Linked DNA regions of Homo sapiens. The protein of the gene in region 7 purifies or fractionates together with the protein of the main gene of each other region. This does not show direct contact. Each region holds a gene or a part of one and is shown on either strand. Other genes may lie near its edges.

Region 1 (3,587 bases), on a different chromosome or scaffold from region 7:
ATACATCCTACAACAGTAAGAACCTTAAAAACATCCTAAGTAAAAGAAGCCAGTCACAAAAGACTACATAAATTATGATTCAATTTATATGAAATGTCCAGAATAGGCAAATCCACAGAGACAGGTTAAGTTGTTGCCAGGAGCTAGGGAGAATGGGGAGTGACTGCCAAGTGAGTATGCAGCTTCTTTTGGGGGCCAGTCCTTGTCAACTGAGTTGATATGCAGTGACAAAAAAAGCTCTTAAGGAGAGTGGGATTATGTGACGTGAGCCACTGTGCTGGCCTGATTCCATTATTTATAATAGAATTATTAAAAACTCTACAGCTGGGATAGAAATACCCTTTCTTGGTTTAAGATACCCAAAACACTATAGCCCAGCTTTTCTGAGGAAGGCCACTGTTTATTTCTAACTGATTTTATCTTTGGATGTACCATTTCTCCAAACTATTCCACAGGGGATATAAGAATTATATGCAATAAATCCTTTTTTTAAAATTTTATTTTATTTTATTTTTGAGACAGAGTCCCGCTTTGTTGCCAGGCTGGAGTGCAATGGCGTGATCTCGGCTCACTGCAACCTCTGCCTCCCGGGTTCAAGTGATTCTCCTGCCTCAGCCTCCCCAAGCAGCTGAGACTACAGGCGCGCGCCACCATGCCCAGCTAATTTTTGTATTTTTAGTAGAGACAGGGTTTCACCATGTTGGCCAGGATGGTCTCGATCTGACCTCATGATCCACCGGCCTCAGCCTCCCAGAGTGCTGGGATTACAGGCGTGAGCCACCGCGCCCAGCGCAATAAATCCTTTTAAAAGTGTGTATATCACATTTTAGAATAACTGAGAGAGTACAATTGGAATGTTCGTAACACAAATGAATGCTTGATGTGATGAATACTCAATTTACTCTATCAAAAGAAATATGTCCCACATAAATATATACACCTACTATGTACCCATAAAATGTTTTTAAAAGTTGATAAATATGTTTTTTTCTGGAGAAAAAATTTGTTTTTAATTTTTTTAAAAAAAGGGCTATGTGTGCTGGCTCACACCTATAATCCCAGTACTTTGGGAGGCTGAAGCGGGAGAGTCATTTGAGCCCAGGAGTTTAAGACCAGTCTGGGCAACATAGAGAGACCCCCATCTCTACAAACAATTTAAAAAATTAGCCAGGCATGGTGGCATGCACCTATAGTCCCAGCTACTCAGGAGGCTGAGGTGGGAGGATCGCTTAAGCCCTGGAGTTTGATGCTGCAGTGAGCTATGATCATGCCACTGCGCTCCAGCCTGGGCAACAGCAACACCCTGTCTTATTTAAAAAAAAAAAAAATGTGTGCTGACTGGGTGGGGTGGCTCATGTCTGTAATATCAGCACTTTGGGAGGCCGAGGTGGGTGGACTGCTTGAACTGAGAATTTCAAGACCAGCCTGGGCAACATGGTGAAACCATTTTTTTTTTTTTTTTTGCCTATAAAATATACAAAAATTAGCCAGGTGTGGCGGTGCGCACCTGTAGTCCCAGCTATTTGGGGAGGCTGTGGTGGGAGGATTGCATAAGCCCAGGAGGTGGAGGTTGCAGTAAGCCGTGATGGCACCAGTGCCCTCCAAGCCTGGGTGACAAAGCCAGACCCTGTCTCAAAAAAGAAAAAAAAAGTGTTTATATTATCCAGTATAAGAAAGCCAACTAAATAAAGCCTATCCATTTCCCCTACTGAACCATCTTCAATATATAAGGAACACAAATGGTATGAAACTAGCACAAATGCAACCTAGGAATACTTCAATACACTAAAAAAAAAGTACATCAATACTTCATGATAACATCATTAAAGTGAATTACTGGGCAAAATGGACTGTGTTATATAAATGCTTTGACATACATTCATTACATAAATTGGACAGAAGATAGAGATGAATAATTCAGTTTTCTGTGAAATTTTGCGGGGAAATTTTAAATTATGAGTAAAAATCTAACACTGACAGTATGAACATGGATTTTTGACAACCCAGAATTTGCTAGCATAGCAGATAGGTGAACAGATTTACTATATTTAAGATTATTTTGCCATTTATATATAAAATTAAAATTTAGGCCGGGTACCGTGGCTCATGCCTGTAATCCCAGCACTTTCAGAGGCTGAGGCAGGCAGATCACTTGAGTTCAGGAGTTCAAGACCAGCCTGGCCAATATGGTGAAACCCTGTCTCTACTAAAAATACAAAAATTACAAGCAGTACTGTATGGTTATTTTGAAGTTAGTGCTAAGAAGAAAAATAAAATCACGAAGTTAATACAGCTCTAGTATTTTTAACATTTAAAAAAGTACTTTCATATAAAGTGAGAACACAGAACTTATATATTACCCATGTCAGTTAAAGCTGTTAAAAATTGTCCTCCCTACCCCCTACAACATGAAATCTAGAGTGGTTTTTTGAAGACAGGGTCTTGCTCTATTACCCAGGCTGGAGTGCAGCGCACCTTGATCACAACTCACTGCAGGCTTGACCTCATGGGCTCAAGTGATCCTCTGGCCTCAGCCTCCTGAGCAGCTGGGACTACAGGCATGCACCACCATGCCTGGTTAATTTTATTTTTTGCAGAGATAGGGTCTCACAATGTTGCCAAGGCTGGTCTTGAACTCCTCAGCTCAAGTGATCCTCCTGCCTCAGCCTCCCAAAATGTTGTGATTACAGTCAAGAGCCACTATGCCTGGCCCTCTAGATAGTGTTGCCTTCCTGTACTATATTAAGCAAATTATTAAAATTCTCAAAACACTGAAATATTTTTTATTTGTGTTTAAAAAATTCATTTTCAGGGCTGGGGGAGGGATAGCATTAGGAGAAATACCTAATGTAAATGACGAGTTAACGGGTGCAGCAAACCAACATGGCACATGTATACCTATGTAACAAATCTGCACGTTGGGCACATGTACACTAGAACTTAAAGTATAATAATAAAAAAAGAAAAAAAGAAAGTTAGTTTTCAGTTATGGAAGGTTGGGCTTGTAATCTCAACTACTTGGGACGCTGAGGCAGGAGGATCATTTGAGCCCCGCAGTTTGAGGCTGTAGTAAGTTATGACTGCACCACTGCACTCCAGCCTGGGTAACAGTGAGACTCTATCTCTTAAAAAAATTATGCTGAGAATATTTTCTGAGTTGTCACATGGGTCTTGTGATAAACTAATAATGCAAACTTTTATTTTTCATTATATATAAATATTGGATTTATCCCAACCAAACTAGTTTGCAGGGAACCTCTGCCTTTATTTCACGGCTGGAGAATGAGATACAAAAGATGTCAATTTCCATCGTAAGAACTTTCCACAGTAGTGTTCTTTGGACATTCTCTCCCTTGTATTAGGCTCCTCAGAAATCTATCTCCAGACTGAAACCAGCACATTCTGATGAGATCATAGCTTAGTACTCAGAAAAATCACTACTCAGTGGAATTCTTGAAATTTTGAAACAACTGATTTTAGCATACAGAATTTCAAAAAGAACATACATTACAGCCAGAAACGATTGTTTGCTCATGAATTTTGATTATTGGCAGACACATTTGCTGTAGCGGCAACTGTGCAAGAGT
Region 2 (3,587 bases), on a different chromosome or scaffold from region 7:
AACCAATCCCCATCTCTACCCACCCCCCAAAAAATAAAATCAGCTTGGCATGGTGGGGCGCTCCTGTAGTTCTAACTATTTGGGAGACTGAAGAGGGATGATCACTTGAGCCCAGGTCAAAGCTGCTGTGAGCTGATGGTGCCACTGCGCTCTGGATGGGACAACAGAGAAAGGCCCTGTCACCACCACCACCACCACCACAACAACAAAGGACCTGCCACAGTGCCACTGTGTTACCATTGAATAGTTGTGACAATAACAATGATACATACCCACCACCCTTCCATGATTTGTACTGTACAACTGCACAAGGTTTATTCCTCAAATGAGGATTTTGCCGCTGCTCCACTTGAACAAAAAAACAGTCCATGTCCACGAGAGCAACCACTCGATCCTGTCCAGTAGCCATTTTTCTGTAACACAACATTTTATGGACAGTTAGAAAAACACCTAATCCAAAATGCCAGGGAAAACTGTAATTCCATTCTTTCACTGATGAGTTACCATGAGCATGGGAGCATGGAAACTAACAAGAATGAAATAGGCATTTAAATATACAGGTTGAGTATCCCTTATCTGAAATGGCTGGGATCCAAAGTGCTTGAGATTTTGCATTTTTTTCAAATTTTGCAATATTTGCATTATAATCACCAGTTAAGCATCCGTAATCCAAAAATCCTAAACCTACAATGCTCTAATAAACATTTCCTTTGAATGCTGTGTTGGTGCAAAAAATTTTTTGGATTTTGGAAGATTTCAAATTTCAGATTAGGGATACCCTGAGTGGAAAAAACAGTTTTTAAGATTCTTTCACTCGATCTTGAGAGGAGGTCGCGGCGCCGGAGGCCCTAGAAGGCTCGAAGGCGCCGCGGGCTGGGGTCGGTGGCTTAGGGAGCCCGTCCGGCCATGGTGGCCGCGGGTGGTGGTTGGCGCGGCTGCGCTGCGGCCCGGGGCAGTGCGGAGCCGGGACAGTCGCGGCGCTGACGCCCGCGGGCCCCAGCTGCAGATATGAAGCGGAGCCGCTGCCGCGACCGACCGCAGCCGCCGCCGCCCGACCGCCGGGAGGATGGAGTTCAGCGGGCAGCAGAGCTGTCTCAGTCTTTGCCGCCGCGCCGGCGAGCGCCGCCCGGGAGGCAGCGGCTGGAGGAGCGGACGGGCCCCGCGGGCCCGAGGGCAAGGAGCAGCCGCCTGCCTTGGCCTCCCAAAGTGCCGAGATTGCAGCCTCTGCCCGGCCGCCACCCCGTCTGGGAAGTGAGGAGTGTCTCTGCCTGGCCGCCCATCGTCTGGGATGTGAGGAGCCCCTCTGCCTGGCTGCCCAGTCTGGAAAGTGAGGAGCGTCTCCGCCCGGCCGCCATCCCATCTAGGAAGTGAGGAGCGCCTCTTCCCAGCCGCCATCACATCTAGGAAGTGAGGAGCGTCTCTGCCCGCCCGCCCATCGTCTGAGATGTGGGGAGCGCCTCTGCCCCGCCGCCCCATCTGGGATGTGAGGAGCGCCTCTGCCCTGCCGAGACCCCGTCTGGGAGGTGAGGAGCGTCTCTGCCCGGCTGCCCCGTCTGAGAAGTGAGGAGACCCTCTGCCTGGCAACCACCCCGTCTGAGAAGTGAGGAGCCCCTCCGCCCGGCAGCTGCCCCGTCTGAGAAGTGAGGAGCCTCTCCGCCCGGCAGCCACCCCATCTGGGAAGTGAGGAGCGTCTCCGCCCGGCAGCCACCCCGTCCGGGAGGGAGGTGGGGGGGGGTCAGCCCCCCGCCCGGCCAGCCGCCCCATCCGGGAGGGAGGTGGGGGGGTCAGCCCCCCGCCTGGCCAGCCGTGCCGTCCGGGAGGGAGGTGGGGGGGTCAGCCCTCCGCCCGGCCAGCCGCCCCGTCTGGGAGGTGAGGGGCGCCTCTGCCCGGCCGCCCCTACTGGGAAGTGAGGAGCCCCTCTGCCCGGCCAGCCGCCCAGTCCGGGAGGGAGGTGGGGGGGTCGGCCCCCCGCCCGGCCAGCCGCCCCGTCCGGGAGGGAGGTGGGGGTGTCGGCCCCCCGCCCGGCCAGCCGCCCAGTCCGGGAGGGAGGTGGGGGGGTCAGCCCCCCTGCCCGGCCAGCCGCCCCGTCCGGGAGGTGAGGGGCGCCTCTGCCCGGCCGCCCCTACTGGGAAGTGAGGAGCCCCTCTGCCCGGCCAGCCGCCCCGTCCGGGAGGGAGGTTGGGGGGTCAGCCCCCCGCCCGGCCAGCCGCCCCGTCCGGGAGGTGAGGGGCGCCTCTGCCCGGCCGCCCCTACTGGGAAGTGAGGAGCCCCTCTGCCCGGCCACCACCCCGTCTGGGAGGTGTGCCCAACAGCTCATTGAGAACGGGCCATGATGACAATGGCGGCTTTGTGGAATAGAAAGGCGGGAAAGGTGGGGAAAAGATTGAGAAATCGGATGGTTGCCGTGTCTGTGTAGAAAGAAGTAGACATGGGAGACTTTTCATTTTGTTCTGCACTAAGAAAAATTCCTCTGCCTTGGGATCCTGTTGATCTGTGACCTTACCCCCAACCCTGTGCTCTCTGAAACATGTGCTGTGTCCACTCAGGGTTAAATGGATTAAGGGCGGTGTAAGATGTGCTTTGTTAAACAGATGCTTGAAGGCAGCATGCTCGTTAAGAGTCATCACCAATCCCTGATCTCAAGTAATCAGGGACACAAACACTGCGGAAGGCCGCAGGGTCCTCTGCCTAGGAAAACCAGAGACCTTTGTTCACTTGTTTATCTGCTGACCTTCCCTCCACTATTGTCCCATGACCCTGCCAAATCCCCCTCTGTGAGAAACACCCAAGAATTATCAATAAAAAAATAAATTTAAAAAAAAAAAAAAAAGATTCTTTCACTCAACAACAATCAATAAGGTAGACTTCTGTGACCAAATGTGTGAGGATTTCTCCCCACCAACAAACAAGCAATCAATTCTGCAGCAGACACCAAGTGGGTATCCTCCAATTCGAGTCTGACATTATCTACCTGGAGAAAGCGTCAGATCTCACAGGTTGATGGCTCAGTCCCACAAGACTGCCCCCTACTTCTGATGCCAATCACAAGCCACAGGTTGTTTTACCTGTGCTTCTAACTGACTGGATATAAATTGGGAATCTCATGAGCCCCTCTTTGGGTTCAGTTAATTTGCCAGAGTGGCTCACAGAACTCAGGTAATCAAATTTACTAGTTTATTATAAAGGATATACAGATGAAGAGATACACATGGCAAGGCATGCCCTCCCTGGGAACACCACTCTCCAGGAACTTCCTTTTGCTCCTATCCAGCAGCTCTTCGAACCCTCTCCTCTTGGGCCTTTTATGGAAACTTCATTGGATAGGCATGACTGACATCCGTGTAGAAATGTGACTGGACAAAAAAGATATGATCTAATACTAATAGACTGGGGAAACCCAGCAAGGCCTGTCCAGATTCTTCCTGGCCTCTCTGGGTAGCATTCCTTTCTCCAGGGTATGGGGTAGGAACTCTTCTGAAATGAAAGTCTTATGACCCATAATCAGAAAGGCAGGGGAAGATTAGAGTCCTGCTTTGGGCAGGTGAAAGGAGGGCAGAAGGCCAGAGAGAGATTCTGTTTTCTGAGGC
Region 3 (3,587 bases), on a different chromosome or scaffold from region 7:
GAGCAGATATCCTCCTTTTCCTAAACTCTATTCTGTAATATGTTCAAGCATTTCTGCAAACTCTACTCTGTAATGCACTCAAGTGTCTCACCAGTCAAGTTGTATTCCTGACAAGAGGCAGTTATATTTGCTCCCAAACTAGTGTGTGCTGGTTATGTTTGTCACATGTGTTTAATTAAACACTACATAAACCTGTAAAATACCAGTGCAAAAAGAGTTTTCATCGATACGAAAACTAAATTAAAAGCTTTAAACAGGCTCTGTCTGGGGAAATTGCTAAAAAAAAAAATTGTTGTTTAGTTAGGTGTGGGCAAGTTAACTGTAAATGACTTAGGGAGAAATCATTGAGATACAACATTGTACACTTACTGCTTGGCAAGTGTTTAAGGTTGCACTACACTTAAGGAAATCAAATCAGTATGGGTTATGCTAAAAAGATCCCAGCCTGGGCAACATGGTGAAACCTCATCTCTACTAAAACTACAACAAAAAAATTAGCTGGTCGTAGTGGCGCATGCCTGTGGGCCTGTGATCCCAGCTACTTGGGAGACTGAGGTGGGAGCATCACCTTAGCCTAGGAGGTGAAGGCTGCAGTGGGCTGTGATTGCACCACTGCACTCCAGCCTGGGTGACAGAGTGAGACCCTGTCTCAAAAAAAAAAGTAAAAAATAGCCAGGCACAGTGGTGCACGCCTGTAATCCCAGCACTTTGGGAGGCTGAGGTGGGCAGATCACCTGAGGCCAGGAGTTTGAGACCAGCCTGGCCAACATGGTGAAACCCCATCTCTACTAAAATACAAAAATTAGCCAGATTTGGTGGCGGGTGCCTGTAATCCTAGCTACTCAGGAGGCTGAGGCAGGAGAATTGCTTGAACCTGGGAGGCAGAGGTTGCAGTGAGCCAAGGTCGCACTAGTGCACTCCAGCCTGGGTGACAGAGTGAGACTCCCTCTCAAAAAACTAAAAATAAAAACTAAAGAAGTTCCAAGGAGTGCTAGTGGATTCATTCCCTAAAGAAAACGATAGGCTTTTATCAGAAACTTATGTTCATGTGAGTACTTTATGTTAAAATGAAATATTTACATAAATATTCATTTATGTAAAAATGAAAACATGTAAAATGTTAAAATGAATATTTTTATTACTTTGACTTCAGTTAATTGATTAGTTATGGGTCTCATTCTCATTGGGTAAGAGAACTTCTGTCTTTGTCTTATAGAGATATGATTATATTATACTTAACTCTGCATAGCATAGGTAAGTAGTCATGAAGACTGACTGGGTTTGTTTGATTGAGACAGAGTTTTGCTCTTGTTGCCCAGGCTGCAGTGCAGTGGTGTGATCTCAGCTCACTGCAACCTCCACCTCCTGGGTTCAAGCAATTCTCCTGCCTCAGCCTCCCGAGTAGCTGGGATTACAGGTGTGTGCCACCACACCCGGCTAATTTTTGTATTTTTAGTAGAGATGGGGTTTTGCCATGCTGGCCAGGCTGGTCTTGAATTCCTGACCTGAGGTGATCCGCCTACCTCGGCCTCTCAAAGTGCTGGGATTACAGGCGTGAGCCACCGTGCCCGGCCCAAAATATATTTTTAAAACTTAAAATGAACAACTCAATCAAAAGGTAGGGAAAAGATCAGAACAGACAACTCACCAAAAAAGATATACAGATGGCATGTAAGCATATGAAAAGATGCTCAAATCTTTAAGGATTTGAGGTCCTTAAGGAATTGCAAATTAAAACAGCAATGAAACAGGAACTCTCCTGAGCTCAAGCAGTCCACCCCTTGGCCTCCCAAAGTGCTGGAATTACGGGTGTGAGCCACTGCACCCAGCCTCAACTGGAATTTCTGTTCCACTGGTCTTCCCCTATATATGCCAATATAACACTTAATTATAGAGGCTTATGATATATTTTGATCTGGAGGAACACCCCTGCCTCCACTCTGTTGCTCTTTTTCAGAGTTTTCCTGTTTATTTGCTCCTCTAAAAGAAATTTGAAATCAACTTTTTAAAGTTGAAATTTTATGAAATTTGTAAATGAACTTCAGGGGTTGTAGTTGACATCTTTATGTTGCTGAATCTGTTCAAGAACATAGTTATATCTTGGAAAGGTTTTGACATACTTACTCAGTAGTGTTTGCTGGCCTCCCTTTTTTGGGGTACTTCTTTATTTGACAAGTACAGACACTTATTATCAAGTTGGTTCAAAATGCGTTATTTTTTCAGAGTGGGCTGGGCATCGATATTTATGAACTCCTCTAAGTATTTAAGAGGAATATTTCTGAACCTTGCAAAGTAGTATACATTCTGATTACTCTGAGTAACAGATTACCTTTACAGCAGATAGTCTTTTAGAAGTAGGTCTTTGAGATGGGTATTGATAAAGATTAGTATTTTTTGTTTTGTTTTTTTGAGACGGAGTTTCGCTGTTGTCCCCAGGCTGGAGTGCAATGGCTCAACCTTGGCTCACTACAACCTTTGTCTCCCAGGTTCAAGTGATTCTTCTGCCTCAGCTTCCAGAGTTGCTGGGATTATAGGCGCCCACCACCACTTCTGGCTTATTTTTTTGTATTTTTAGTAGAGACAAGGTTTCACCATGTTGGGCAGGCTGGTCTCGAACTCTTGACCTCAGGTGATCCACCTGCCACAGCCTCCCAAAGTGCTGTGATTACAGGCGTGAGCCACTGTGCCCGGCCATAAACGTTAATTTTGTCATTTTTATTTTGGACCATCTGAGGATTATTTCACATATTCAAGGATTCTAGTTGTCGTTTCTCCAACATTGTATTTTTGCTTAAAATTAGTATCAAAAATGAAATAGTCATAAAACTGATTATTTGATTTGAACTGTTTTCAGGGGTGTGTGTGTGTGTGTGTGTGTTTAATACTACTGTTAGTGAGAGTGCCAGAAGTGATGAATAGCAGAAATCACCGTGAACACTTGGGGGGCCTGTGTGTGGGCCTTGGACTTTTCCACCAAGGAAATTATGAAAACTTTCTCACAGTCCTGGAATAAATTTGAAAGAGAACAATTTTTCATACTAAATACTGGGGAATATTTTTAAATGTGTGTTTGTAAATTCTTATTGGAGTTAAAGTCACAAAAAGTCACAGTCCTTAGTTAACCCTCTTGTCATATGCATTGCCACTGCCTCAGTTTATACTTCATTTCTCCTCTGGACTAAACTTGTATAACTGGTAGCCCACATTTAAAGTCTTCTCAATTCAGCCTTCCTACTTTTTCCAGAATAATATTTCTATTCTCTTTCTCTTCTCTTTTCACTCCTCTTCTCCCTTCTCTTCTCTTCCTTGACAGAGTATCTGTCGCCCAGGCTGGAGTGCAATTGTACAGTCTTGGCTCACTGCAGCCTCCGCCTGCTGGACTCAAGCCATCTTTCCAGCTCCCCTTCTTGCGTAGCTGGGACCACAGGCACGTGCCACCACGCCCAGCTAATTTTTGTATTTTTAGTAGAGATGGGGTTTCGCCATGTTGGCCAGGCTGGTATTGAACTCCTGGCCTTAAGTGATCCACCTGCCTTGGCCTTACAAAGTACTGGGATTACAGGCATGAGCCACCACGTCTGGCCTCA
Region 4 (2,959 bases), on a different chromosome or scaffold from region 7:
TCCTGTGGGTCAAGAAGCAGAATGGGGAAAAGGCAGCAAGCACTCACTGTCCGGTTGCTGGGGTGCTCACCTGAGGGCCCAGTGCTGTGGGGAACCCCAGGCTGCTGTCTTGGCTGCCCTAGGTGCTCGGCTGGCAATTCCTGGGCCACCCTGACCCACAGTGAGGTCAGTAGAGACAGCCTGGTGTCCTCACAGGACGCAGCTGCAAACATAAGTGAACCGGAAAGGCTGCTCACTCCTTGGCTACCCATGTGTCCCCACATCAGTTCCTGCATCTGGAAGCAGCCGCAGTGGCGACCACACAGTGACTTCCCCCAGGACGTGTCTCTGCCCCTCCCACCCTGCTCCTGCAGAGGGCCCTGGGTCAGGGGTTCTCAAGACCCCAGAGTCCCTAACCAGAAATCAGAGGGGAAGGTTCCTACTGTACCCGCCTCCCAACCAATGGGTTTTTCCTCCTTATTCTGAACAAAGCACGCCACGCACGCAATTCCACCTCTAAGGTGGCTTCTCCAATACCCACAGGCCATTCTCCAACTATGACAAAAGTTTGGTTTTAATATCGGGCAACACAAAACACAGTACATCACTTCAGACTAAATTTTATTAAATATGGTGTCATTTGGCTACAATCGGTTTGTCTTTATAAAACTAAGTAACTTATTTTGTAGTAAAAACAACCCCAACCCACTGCCCCTCTTTGGCAGCCCTTGAAACTCAGTTCAAAGCTAGGCCTGGCTCCCGGCCATGGCCCCTGCTGCCTTCACCTGCTGAGCGCTCTAGGAAGCCTCCCAAATCCCAAGTGTCAGGCCCCCGGAGTCCATCACCTCTGCCTCAAACAGCCAAGCCCAGGGGCTTTGGGGCCGCAGGTATGAAGGCCCCTCCAGTAGCCACACCTGTGTCAGGGCTGTGCCCTGGGGCCTGGCCAACATCCCCCCTCCCCTTGAACCATCAGGAACTGGGCAAGACGCCCACCAGAGGCTTGACCACAGGGGGCGTGCATCCCCTTCTGAGCCTGGGAGACCCTAGGGGAGTGGGTAGCCTGGGCTGGACCCCTGGTGGGCTTGTGTTCTGGATGTCGCTATGGCACTTTGGTCCTCAACTCAAACCCCCACCCCTACCCAGGAGTCTGAGACCTCGGCCTTCCCTGGACTTGTTGGGCAGAAAAAGGCACCAAGGACAGGATGAGAAACCCGGAGGGGCAGCCCCACAAATGAGGGCGCTCTGACCTGTCCTCCCATTGCCACCCCACCCAGGAACAGCCCCTCAACTGGTCACAGCCACCAGGAAGCCCCAGGACTGCTCCCACACCACAGCAGTGCCCTCTTCTCCATCCCACCCTCAGGACCTACCCAGGGTCCTCCAGGCAGCCAGGGGCCAGCTCCAGGACAGGGCAGGAGAATGCGGTCCAGGTCTGGCACGTAACTGAGGGTGGGTATGCTCCAGAGAAGTAAGGCAAATGGCCCAGATGACGACCACCTGGGGTAGACCCAGGGTCTCCAGGGAATGGCTCGGGGGCAGACGCTGTGTCTGTGTGTGCAGGATCTGCCCCCACCAGCAGGAAAGGGGCAGGAGGGAGGCAAAGAGGAGGTGCCCAGGACTTGTACCCTGGCTGCCAAGCAGGGTGGGGTGTTTTCATGAGGATTGCTTTTAACCAAAAGTCCTCAGCCTTCTGCAGACCCAGGGCAGAGGCGAGTTGCTCTACATCATGTGCTTTAAGTAGAGCCCTTTGCCAGCCAGGAGGCCCAGCCACCCCCTTCCCTGCCCTGTGGCTTTGGGGGGAGACACAGAGTCACCTCAAGGCCCCAGCCCACTCAGCGCACGGTGCACACATCCAGGATGCAGAAGCGTGCGCGGCAGGTGGGGCAGGGCACGCGGCTGGCCAGCCAGGTGTCAGGGCGCAGGGGGTCCTGGCGGCTGGCGAACCACTTGCCCATGCAGGTGAGGCACCACATGGGGCGGCAGTAACACTGCTGGCACTCGCCTGTGGCTGCCTCCTGGCAGGTCTTCACCAGCTTCACGCTGGCACGTGTCTGCATGCAGCCTATGCAGGCCTCCAGCTCCTGCGGGCAGGTGGAGCGTCACCAGGAGCCCAGGCAGACACCCGTGGGCACCCACCCATCCACCCGGCCCTGGCCCAGGCCCCCCACCTGGCTGCTGGGCACTGAGTAGGCCGGGTTGACCTCTACCAGGGAGGCAAATGTCTCCAGGAACAGGTCGCCCAGGCTCTGGTGGATGACCACATGGGCTGCCCTGCGGATGGGTGCCCGGAGCTTCTCGCAGAGCTCCCCGTACTCAGTGGAGTTCAGCCTGCAGGGAGGAGAGCTGCTGGGCCCCTCTGCAGGGCAAAGGGAGCGGAAGATGGAGGCTACACCCCAAGGAGTGACAGGGCAGCTGTCGCACCAGGACCAACCAGGAGAGATGGCCCTAAGGCCAGAGCCCACGGACCCAGTGCCAGACAGCCCAGCCTGGGCACGGGACGGACCTAGGAGCAAGGCAGCTGTCCAGCCTGAGGGCTGCACTGTCCTGAGTGCTCCCCAAGAATCTGGGGGAGGTGGCTCCAGGGAGTGGAAGGGGAGGCCAAGAGTGCAGGGGGACCCGAGGGAGGGCTATGCGGGAGGGCTCAGTGACTGGTGTCTTGTGGACACCTTGCCTGGTGTCACACAAGCCCAGGAGTGTTGGAGTCCACACCAGCTACACCCAGCACCTCCCAGGGGTCGTGGCACCAGAGCCTGGCTCTGGCCTGCCATGTGCCCTCCGCAGCCCCACAGGCACCACACTCTTACCAGATGTCAAAGGCCTGCACAGCAGGGTTGGTGCTGGCCACACGGATGGTGAGGAGCTGCACGGGCAAGTTCGAGTCTGGCGAGAGCTCATGCTGCCGAGACTCCGTCACAGTCAGGTGCACGTCCTGCTGCTGGGCCACGTGCACTCGGTAGGTGGTTACCTTCATCACCCACGT
Region 5 (3,587 bases), on a different chromosome or scaffold from region 7:
CTTTATCCATGGTTCTAATAGCAGATTAACTCACTTTCTGGGTAAATTAAGGCAAGACTTAAATGCCTCCATTTCGTCTGTAGAGCAGGGATGGTAGCATGATACTTATACAGCCACACGTATGATTACATATGTAATATATTTTGTGAATTTTAGAGCATCTAAATAGCCACTATAAGCACAGTATTGAATTATTAAAGCATTTTGGAAGGAATAATTCTGTTACAGGAGGGCTTTGAAAAGATACTAATTCAGATGGAAGATGAATACATACCTTTTTTTGCACATTTTGGAATTTTGTTGACAGTTTGGTAACCCGTTTTGGCCTCTGGTTTAGAGAAACATATTGTGCACTAGTCTCAGTTCTTGCATACATCACATACATCTGTTTCCTTTACTTTCTTTTCTTTTTAGTTGTTGATATAAGACCCTCAGTAATTACCTGAGTTTTTGATGCTTTTTTGGATGGGTTGTTTTTTTGTTTTTTTTTTTTTTTAATTTTGAACCATTCCATCTTCTCTGTCTTTCTCTATCTTTTTATCCTTTTTCGCCTTTCTTCCCCCACCACCTGGGAGCCATGAGGCAAGGGAGGAAGGTGGTTGCCTTCTTTTGCCCTCTGAATTTGAACCTTCTGAAGAAGTAGACCTCCCCTGGAGGAAAGAATCCTGAAAATAGCAGTGCGCTTTCACTAAATTTCTATGCTGTGAAAAGTGCAGAACTGTATTTATGAAAAAAAAAATATATATATATATATATATATGTGTAAATGTTCTAATTTTAACACTTGGCTAACAAGCAATGTGACCTCCTATGTCAAGAGGAGACATTTACCCAAAGGATCATTTCTCCTTCCCCTCCCTCCCATGAGTAGCCATGAAGAGTCTGTGTTTGGGTTTCTAGGGGCTGCAGTCTGTCTGAGGATGGGGGCATGCTGGCCCAGTGTCAAGGCCTGTCAAAAGAAGTGACCGAGCTCAGTCAGGAAGAGAAGAAATTAGATGAACTGATCCAAAGCTGCACCCTGGACCTCAAACTGTTAACCGAGGATTCAGAGAATCAAAGATATCCTTTGTGCCGCCAGTTCTCTGGGGGTTAGTGCTTCCTAGACTATTTCCAGAGTTGACAATCTGACTTATGCACAAGGTAGATTATTATTCTGATGTCATGCAAATGAGTACCTGTGTGCCTGTGTGTGTATGTGTGTGTGTGTGCACGTGTGTGTGTAAACCCAGTTAGCTTTGCCTAAAAAGTCAGTATTTATGGTAAGATAGTCACCAACTCGATCCTATTATTATCTATTTTGATACCAGGTGGGAACTGTTTTTTAAAGCATTTTTTCATGTGTGGTTGAGACATGGGTATACTCGTAGCGTAAGGCCACACTATTAAAAGATACATAAGGTGTCGGTATTAATATTAATGACAACACTAAGCAGATTCGTCTTTGGCTTCCCAGATTTTTGGTGGGTGTTAGCTGTCACTGTTGGGGTTCTCACATTCTATTTTCTTCTCACCAGATATCGTAGCAATTGAAATTGGTTGAATCTATCTGATTGGGCTATAGTTGAAGGGTTTGAAAGAGTAGAGAAAAATCATACTATAACTCTTAAAGTGCATTCTGCTGATTCCCAATGAAAAAACTGATTTCAAAAGCACCCCAAGACCTGAGAAACCCCTCTCAATTCCTCTGTTCCACTACAAACATTAGTCCTCGCAAATAAAAATACAAAAGGTCAGTTCTTGTTCTCAACTTCCTGACAATCTATTGACGATCTCAGGAAAACTTGCTCTTCATCATCTCACTACAGACAAAGTAAGAGAGAGATTGCCTCATTATGTCAAACAAGACTTGCCAATATTCTCAGTTATTAGAAGACAAAAAACAGTACTGTAAGTTATCCCATCTCTAGTTTTAGTTCCAAACTTCTGATGATTGCACATTTACCATTATTTGACAAAAACTAAAAAGTGTTCTGCCCAGATTCTTCTAGTGTCTCATCTTTAACAGGCTCCCCCTTGGAGAATATGGAGATATTTATTTTCTTCCAATGTTGGCAGTTTTTCAAACCTGCAATTGTTCATTTCCTGTTGACCAAAGAATTAACCTTGTCAGCCGATAATTAGTGAGATGGAAGAGAGGCGTAGTGATTTGGACCCCCAGTGGTTGGCAGAGTGGGTTTACAGGGGAAGAAACCAACAGTTGGGCTGTTTCATTCATTGTTTGGTTGGGAGCCCCATTGTGGAAGAGATGGGTGGTTACATGTGATTGGCAGCCTTCCGGGACATGTGGCTTATGGCATTGTCACCTATATTAGCTCTCTCTGGGGCCTTTGTTGCAGAAAATGAAAGCTTCCTTGCAGGGAACTTCGAACCCAAGGAGTAAATTCAGGAGGGAGCCACAAAGGAAGCACTTTTAAGTTTGTAAGATTAGAAAATACATTTGCACAATTTATTTCAGTTCACCATTCAGTTCCCAAATTGGTACAGCTTGTTCACAAATGTGTTGAAATTTTCCTTCCTGCAGCATGTTGAGTAATCGTAGATGAGTTTTTCTTTTACACTTGATCTTAGCCAAAAGGCCAAGAAGTGATGAGTTTTTATTTTAATAAGTTCTTGTCATACAGCTTTTTGACAGTGAGCTGTAGTGTAAGTACCTGGTTGTCAGTTTTTTCCAGTGTTCTCAGTAAAAAATCAGAACTGCCTGGCCCTCTATAAAGGCATCCGTTGACTTCTTTGATGGGTTATGTAGTGACCTAAAACCCAGAATCCTGCAAGAGCAGCCACTACAAGCTCAACACTGAATTAGCCATCATCTCAACTGTAAAGATTTGAAGGAGATAGTCTGTGATAGATCCCCTACATGTGTATGCAGATTTCGTGTGAATGTGCTTTCTTTCTGGAGTAGTAGTTCCATAGCTGCATTCAGTTTCTAATAAGAAGCTACTACAGCCAGGCACGGTGGCTCATGCCTGTAATCCCAGCTACTCGGGAGGCTGAGGCAGGAGAATCACTTGAACCTGGGAGACAGAGGTGGCAGTGAGCTGAAATCGTGCCACTGCACTCCAGCCTTAGTGACAGAGTGGGAGTCCGTCTCAAAAAAAAAAAAAAAAAGAAGCTACTATCGTAAGGGACATGATTTATTCTAGGGTCTCTAAGCCCCCCCTTTTTTTTATATTAAACATATTAGATCACGGACTCTATTAGCCATTAAATACGTTATACTACCTGCTGAAATGCCTTCATTGGTTTGTTACTTGCTGTTTTATCCTAGGAATTTTTTGTGGGTACATATAAAAAATAATAACGGGCTAAAGACATTGTACATTAATTGAATACTTTTGTCATATCGTAAGTACCATATTCTTTCATGATAGCCTTTTAGGCTTGGCTGTCAGGACATTTAAAAGAATGGTTCAGTGCTTAGAAAAAATGACCAAGGCCGGGCGCCGTGGCTCACACCTGTAATCCCAGCACTTTGGGAGGCCGGAGGCAGGCAGATCACTTGAGTCCAGGAGTTCAAGACCAGCCTGGGCAACAGGGTAAAACCCCATCTCTACTAAAAATAAAAAAAATTAGCCGGGTGTGGTGGT
Region 6 (2,292 bases), on a different chromosome or scaffold from region 7:
GGCTTTATAAACTGTATTGATACGTTCTCCTATAAACTAGTCCCAATTTCCTTCATGGGCCTTCACTGAGTTACTTGTAGCATTCTAATGGAAGAAGAGAGTTTAAGAGATTTAAGAGACAGCAGTTTGGATTTTGCTGGAAGTAAGGATTTTGCTGCTTGAGCACTTGTCTTTTTGGAGTAATTCCATTTTCTTCCATCAAGTTACATAAACTGTATCTGGAAAAAAAAAGTGGGTATGTTAATTCATTGTATTGTAGGATGTCTTCTCATAAATAAAAATGCTTTGTGGTCTTTACCATTTAACTGGCCCAGAAGTGTTCACAACATGCTTATCACAAACCCTGTTTATAAAACAAAGTCAGTATTATCAACTTATGTGCCAGAAAGCTCAATATTTGACACATATAGGGACTTCCAAATAATGTTTTTTGTTGTTGTTTTTGAGACAGAGTCTTGCTCTGCTGTCTAGGCTGGATTGCAGTGGCATGATCAAAGCTCAATGGCTGGGCACCATAGCTCACACCTGTAATCCCAGCACTCTGGGAGGCTGAGGTGGGCAGATCACCTGAGGTGAGTTCGAGAGTTCGAGACTGGCCTGGCCAATATGGTGAAACCCCGTCTCTACTAAAAATACAAAAATTAGCCAGGCGTGGTGGCGGGCGCCTGTAATCCTAGCTACTCGGGAGGCTGAGGCAGGAGAATGGCTTGAACCCAGGAGGTGGAGGTTGCAGTGAGCTGAGATCGTGCCACTGCACTCCAGCCTGGGAGACAAGAGCGAAACTCCATCTCAAAAAAAAAAAAAAAAAAAAAAAGCTCATTGGAACTCCTGGGCTCAAGCAACCCTCCTGCCTCAGCCTCCTGAATAGCTAGGACTGCAGACAGTCGCCACCACACCTGGGTAATTTTTGGGTGGGGGTAGAGACTAGGGTCTCACCGTATTGCCCAGGCTGATCTTGAACTACTAGCCCCAAGTGATCCTCCCGCATCAGCCTCCCAGGGTGCTGGGATTACAGGCATAAGCAACCACATCCAGGCCAAATACTTAACTGCTAAAAATAGAGGAATAGCATGTGGAGGAGGAAAAGAAAGAAGATCAATGACCTATTTTTTCATGACAAGTTCAGAAAAATCTCTCCATAAGCACAAATACCACAAGCAAAATCTCATTTGGGAAGCAAAATTTGAAATATTATTTCCAAATGATATACAATTAGAGACAATAAAGGGAACAGTAATATTATACTAAGTCTTTTTATTAACATAAATAAGAACCTGAAAGAGCCATAAAAATATTTTTCAATAGGGTACTACTGTTCATTCAAAGATATTTCACTCACAATTTCCCTTAAACTGCCCATCCAAAGATTACTGAAGTAGATGTGCTAATAAACTTGCCAAATCAGAAGACTATAAACTCCCAAAGATCTAGAAGGTATATCTAAACTGGGGGCTAGAGCATCAAGAAGAACAAATTACACTGTCTTCCAGCAAACAGAGGCAGTGTGGATCATATGCAGAATCCTTCTAATCGAAAGGGCTTAAGTATTCACTTGCCCTTAATTAAAAAGCAAACTTTATCCGATCTCATCCATTTACTGTGAGCAGTGGATGAGATTACTTTAAATAATTATGTTACAGATATTTTCCAAAAGTTGTTTTTCCTTATGTCCTATCTTTTCATTCTGCACCTAAAGAATAGAGGAAGAGGAGGAGGAGGAGAGGGAGCCTAGAGTCCTTTAAAGAAATGAAAGAGAAGCGTGAATTGTGTTTAATGTTTGGTAATTGTTTTTAAGTATTTAAGTCCCCATCTCCCAAAACAAGTAGCAATACCTAAAGTGATTTATAAGAAATCCTCCAAAGAGAGCTCTGCAAAGGGGTCCTTTCCTGAAGCTCTGTGAGGACTGTGACTGGAGGGGCTGGATGCTGCCGACAGCTGGGGGAAAAGAAGACAGAGAGAGGGAAAGAAAAAAAGATCTCAGAATGACAGAACATGAAAGCAGAAAATGTATGAAAGAAGAAGTGGTTTTGGTTTTGTCATCTTTAATAAATATAAGGGCAGTCTTTGTAGAAAATGGATTGTTAAGACAAAAGTTTCAGTCATATGTCAAGTTAAAAGGTATGCAATGGCATGTGTTTTTCAGAAAACAAACTCGTGCTTCTGAAGTTTCAAAGGAATAATGTCTTTTACCCAAAAGGTCGATATAAGCTGACCCATGGTTAAGAATTTTAATGTGTGTATGGGGGGTGGTGGGGGGATAGGGGAGGGAATACATAATTGCATTTTTGTTTA
Region 7 (3,587 bases):
TTCCCCAGTGCCAGACCCCGAAACAGAGCTGTTTCCTACTAAGACGCAACTCAATACACTGAATGCTGAGACACCTCTCCCTCTGCCTCTGCAACCACGAACAGGGTCCAAGAAAGAGGAGCAGGCAGCTGCAAAGCAAGCTCTTGCTCTCTTCTCCCAAGAAGATGCTCTCAGCACACCTGACTACCCAGATGTGCAAGGAGACATGCTTATAAAGCTGACTCAGACTGGCCAGGTGTGGAGGCTAACACAGTAATTCCAGCACTTTTTAGGAGGCCGAGGCAGGCAGGTGGTCAGGAGTTCGAGACCAGTCTGGCCAACATGGCGAAACCCCGTCTCTACTAAAAATACAAAAAAAATTACCCAGGCTTGGTGGCGCGCACCTATAATCCCAGCTACTCAGGAGGCTGAAGCAGAAGAATCGCTTGAACCCAGGAGGTGGAGGTTGTAGTGAGCCAAGATCGCACCACTGCACTCCAGCCTGGGTGATAGAGTGAGACTCTGTCTTCCAAAAAAAAAAAAAAAAAAAAAAAAAGGCTGACTCAGACAGAGACACAAACATGGAAATGCGCCCTGGTCCCCCGGTGGAGAGTGGGCTGCGGGAGGGGCCTGGGGCCCCCTTCACGGCAGGGAGACAGGTCTGACTTTTCCTGTCGAGCTGTATTCTCCATCTAGGGCAGCAAGAGGGAGGAATGTGCAGGGCAGCCGTGATGCAGCACGGACATCTTCAGCAGAACCAAACACAGAGCTTCAAGAGTGCACCCCAATAACTGGCTTTGCACCTCTGTGAGCACCCCAAGTCCCCTGGGCGGATGGGCACTGAGGGGATCAAAGCATAGAAGAAGCTTTGTCAGCCACTGAAGAAAACCTCATTATAGACATTCTTTGACCACCTTCTGAAATGTCTGTTAGCAAGTTATGATTTAAGAACAACCATGTGTACACAGCCTGTCTACACAGTATGCAGGCGTGACAGCAAATCGGACCTGGCCTGATCTGCCAGTGAGAGCAGAGGCCAACACGGGAGCCACGCTAAGCAGCAGATCAACACTACACACGGGAAAGCCGAGGCCAGGCCGAGAGGGGCCACACAGCCCCAAGGTGCCTAAGAAGGGCAGCAGGTGACCAGGCAGGGGCCAGGCCAAACCAACAGTGACGAGGCTGCTGGCAGAAGACACAAAGCAACACATTTGGGAAAATTACGAGGTCCACTGAAGATGTGGCCAGTCAGGACGTCAGGGGATTAGCCTTTGTGGCCGTCCATCACCTAGCCATGGGAAGGGCGTCCACGTGACCAGCAGTGCCCCACAGTAGGCCCTAGCTGGCCTGTCACAAGAATGAATCGGGAGCATTTGAAAGCTTGATGTTTTCTGGAAAAACAATACTGACACTAGATAACAATCAGCAGTTACCTTAAATTATGTTTCTAAAGACAAAGAGCTCACCTGTGTCTCACCCAATACATCCCGGTTTTCAATAGGAAATGGATTTTGCGAAATAGAAAAAGTGTAAACTGGATCCTTGGGGAAAGTTGTTGTGATCTAATGAAGAAAAACACAAACCCATGATAAATGAGGCTGAAAATGGTGTGGCCGACTCCCAGCCAGCCCAGAGCATCTCCCAGAGCCCAAATTAACGACTCCTAGCAATTCTGAGAATGTTCTACAAGCTCTCCATCAAAGGGAACCGTTATCTATTAGTGTCATCTCTAAACGAACACTTGGAAACTCCGCCATCCTGGAGACAAACTACACCATATCCGGGCAGCCTCCGGCCTGTGCACCGGCCTCGACGTCGGACAAAAAGGGCACTGGGACTCCCCTCGTGGCACAGCTTCCCTTCAGAGTCACACAGGTTCTCTCCCTCTGCTATGGAGGAACGAAAGGCTGGTTTGGCCCCTTGGCCAGGTGACAGGAAAGGAACGGAAGGGCCAGGAGGCCGCCCCAGGAGCTGACTTTGCTCAAGAGAGATTCGTGTCATTGGATTCGGAGGGCAAATGAGCAATCAGCCAGCTTTCAAGACACAAAGCACCCTTCAGCAGCTCACTAAGCCCCTTCTGAATGCTGGGAGCCACTCCACGGAGCTGTGGGCTTTTCCAGGCAGGGGTGAATGTAAGGCCCTTGAGGAACACAGGGTTCAGCTCTTCTCTCTCCCTCAGAGCTGATACCCAAAGGCCAGCTAAGTCCTTCAGTCCTTCACTGGCTCAGACAGGCCTTAATGACAACAGAGGGCACTTTGCACCTAAGATATAATCAATAGATGCTACAGGGACAGTGGTAAATGTGCAAGAATCAATAGAAATACCACTTTTATTCTTCGTGACAGACACCCCTCCCCAAAGCAGCACCGAGTTGAGTTGATGCTGCTTTTCTCTGCAACACAACAGCAGCAGCAGAGGTCACACCTCTTCCAGATTTAGGGGAACTATTCTGGTTCCTTTGGGACTATTTCTAAAGAATGAGTGTGGTTCTGGTCTGTTTTCTGCATCAGCAAAGGCAGTGAGTTGTTGAGCTAGCTGGCCCAGGATTTGCTGTGCCAGCGCCAGCCGCTGTGGAAGGACAGCTGAGCCACCAGCAGCATCTCTGGCCTGAGCTGGCCCTTCATGGGCAAGCGGCGGGGTGGGTCATGAAGACTCGGGCCGCGGTGCCACGTGTCGGCTACATGGCCTCGTCAGTTAGGGATCCTGGGCCTCACTTTACTCTTCCTCAGGATGAAGATGATCGGAGTACTCGCCTCCTGGGTGCCCAGCACGGGGCTGGTACACATAGTGTTGGTACACACAGTGCTGGGTCCCAGCTGAAGACAGGGGAGGTGCTGACCTCCTGCAGAGACAAAAGCCTGGCCTGCTCAGGCGCGTCCCTTGGGAAGGCCTAGAAATGAAGAAGGCGGCACCCCCAGAACACGTGCTAGTGAGTGAGCTAGTGGGACTGACGGGGGCTCTTGCTGGCCTTGTAACTGGCCCTTGGAGGGGAACAGAACCAAAGTCCACACAGCCCATCCCAGATGTCCCAAGGAAGGGCATCAGCTCCCATCTTACACTGAAGCCATTTCCCTACCCTACCCATCGTCTATCAGCCAGATGATGCCCCCAGAACCCACAAAGAAACCCCAGTAACACTGGCTGGTGCCTTTTCCTGCCTGCCCAGCCATCCCATCCCAAGGTTTAAGAACCTTGGCTGAGGCCAGCGCCTGTGGCCCAGGGCTGGGCATGGAGCTTGACACACCTCTCTGGGCACCTGCTCTCAAGGACTCCCCATGCCTCACTTCCACAGGGTCAAGGAGCCTGGGCATCACAGAGCAGAATGCTCTCCCACAAACAAGTACTTCTGAAAAACTGCACTAAGGCAAAAACTTAACTTCCTTTATAAAAGAAGAGGAAAGAAGTGGGGAGGCTGCTTGGGGTAGAAGACCTGAGAAAGCTGGTTTTAAATCATGCCTGCTCCTCCTGGGTGCATGCTCCATCAATCTGTTTTCATCTTAATTACACCCTAGGTAGTCTAAAAACCAGATGCCTTCACGGCCTAGGTAATAAATATGTTCTCGGGAGCTGTCAGTTGGAATGGTGCATCGATGGGCTTGGCTCGTGG

Evidence for each region.
Region 1: the proteins of NPLOC4 (region 7) and PDE12 fractionate together in Homo sapiens (co-fractionation; one large-scale study listed by BioGRID). This does not show direct contact.
Region 2: the proteins of NPLOC4 (region 7) and POLH purify together in Homo sapiens (affinity purification with western blotting, with the first as the bait; one study listed by BioGRID). This does not show direct contact.
Region 3: the proteins of NPLOC4 (region 7) and FAF2 purify together in Homo sapiens (affinity purification with mass spectrometry; 3 studies listed by BioGRID and IntAct, with this or other methods). This does not show direct contact.
Region 4: the proteins of NPLOC4 (region 7) and TMEM129 purify together in Homo sapiens (co-immunoprecipitation; one large-scale study listed by IntAct). This does not show direct contact.
Region 5: the proteins of NPLOC4 (region 7) and E2F3 purify together in Homo sapiens (pull-down; one large-scale study listed by IntAct). This does not show direct contact.
Region 6: the proteins of NPLOC4 (region 7) and PICALM fractionate together in Homo sapiens (co-fractionation; one large-scale study listed by BioGRID). This does not show direct contact.

The regions. Positions count from the first base shown.
Region 1 is NC_000003.12:57,562,730-57,566,316, reverse strand, and holds part of PDE12 (2',5'-phosphodiesterase 12 isoform 1 precursor), read right to left. Parts: 3' UTR 1-3,587. UniProt on the Homo sapiens protein: Enzyme that cleaves 2',5'-phosphodiester bond linking adenosines of the 5'-triphosphorylated oligoadenylates, triphosphorylated oligoadenylates referred as 2-5A modulates the 2-5A system. Degrades triphosphorylated 2-5A to produce AMP and ATP.
Region 2 is NC_000006.12:43,579,142-43,582,728, reverse strand, and holds part of POLH (DNA polymerase eta), read right to left. Parts: intron 414-3,587; 5' UTR 410-413; coding exon 273-409; intron 1-272. UniProt on the Homo sapiens protein: DNA polymerase specifically involved in the DNA repair by translesion synthesis (TLS). Due to low processivity on both damaged and normal DNA, cooperates with the heterotetrameric (REV3L, REV7, POLD2 and POLD3) POLZ complex for complete bypass of DNA lesions.
Region 3 is NC_000005.10:176,454,798-176,458,384, forward strand, and holds part of FAF2 (FAS-associated factor 2), read left to right. Parts: exon of another isoform or gene 1-200; intron 201-3,587. UniProt on the Homo sapiens protein: Plays an important role in endoplasmic reticulum-associated degradation (ERAD) that mediates ubiquitin-dependent degradation of misfolded endoplasmic reticulum proteins.
Region 4 is NC_000004.12:1,715,369-1,718,327, forward strand, and holds the end of TMEM129 (E3 ubiquitin-protein ligase TM129), read right to left. Parts: coding exon 2,784-2,959; intron 2,308-2,783; coding exon 2,148-2,307; intron 2,061-2,147; coding exon 1,812-2,060; 3' UTR 584-1,811; downstream 1-583.
Region 5 is NC_000006.12:20,481,862-20,485,448, forward strand, and holds part of E2F3 (transcription factor E2F3), read left to right. Parts: intron 1-900; coding exon 901-1,059; coding exon of another isoform or gene 1,060-1,088; intron 1,089-3,587.
Region 6 is NC_000011.10:85,958,843-85,961,134, forward strand, and holds part of PICALM (phosphatidylinositol-binding clathrin assembly protein), read right to left. Parts: intron 1,936-2,292; coding exon of another isoform or gene 1,843-1,935; exon of another isoform or gene 1,833-1,842; intron 219-1,832; coding exon 204-218; 3' UTR 1-203. UniProt on the Homo sapiens protein: Cytoplasmic adapter protein that plays a critical role in clathrin-mediated endocytosis which is important in processes such as internalization of cell receptors, synaptic transmission or removal of apoptotic cells.
Region 7 is NC_000017.11:81,567,571-81,571,157, forward strand, and holds part of NPLOC4 (nuclear protein localization protein 4 homolog), read right to left. Parts: intron 1,542-3,587; coding exon 1,446-1,541; intron 1-1,445. UniProt on the Homo sapiens protein: The ternary complex containing UFD1, VCP and NPLOC4 binds ubiquitinated proteins and is necessary for the export of misfolded proteins from the ER to the cytoplasm, where they are degraded by the proteasome.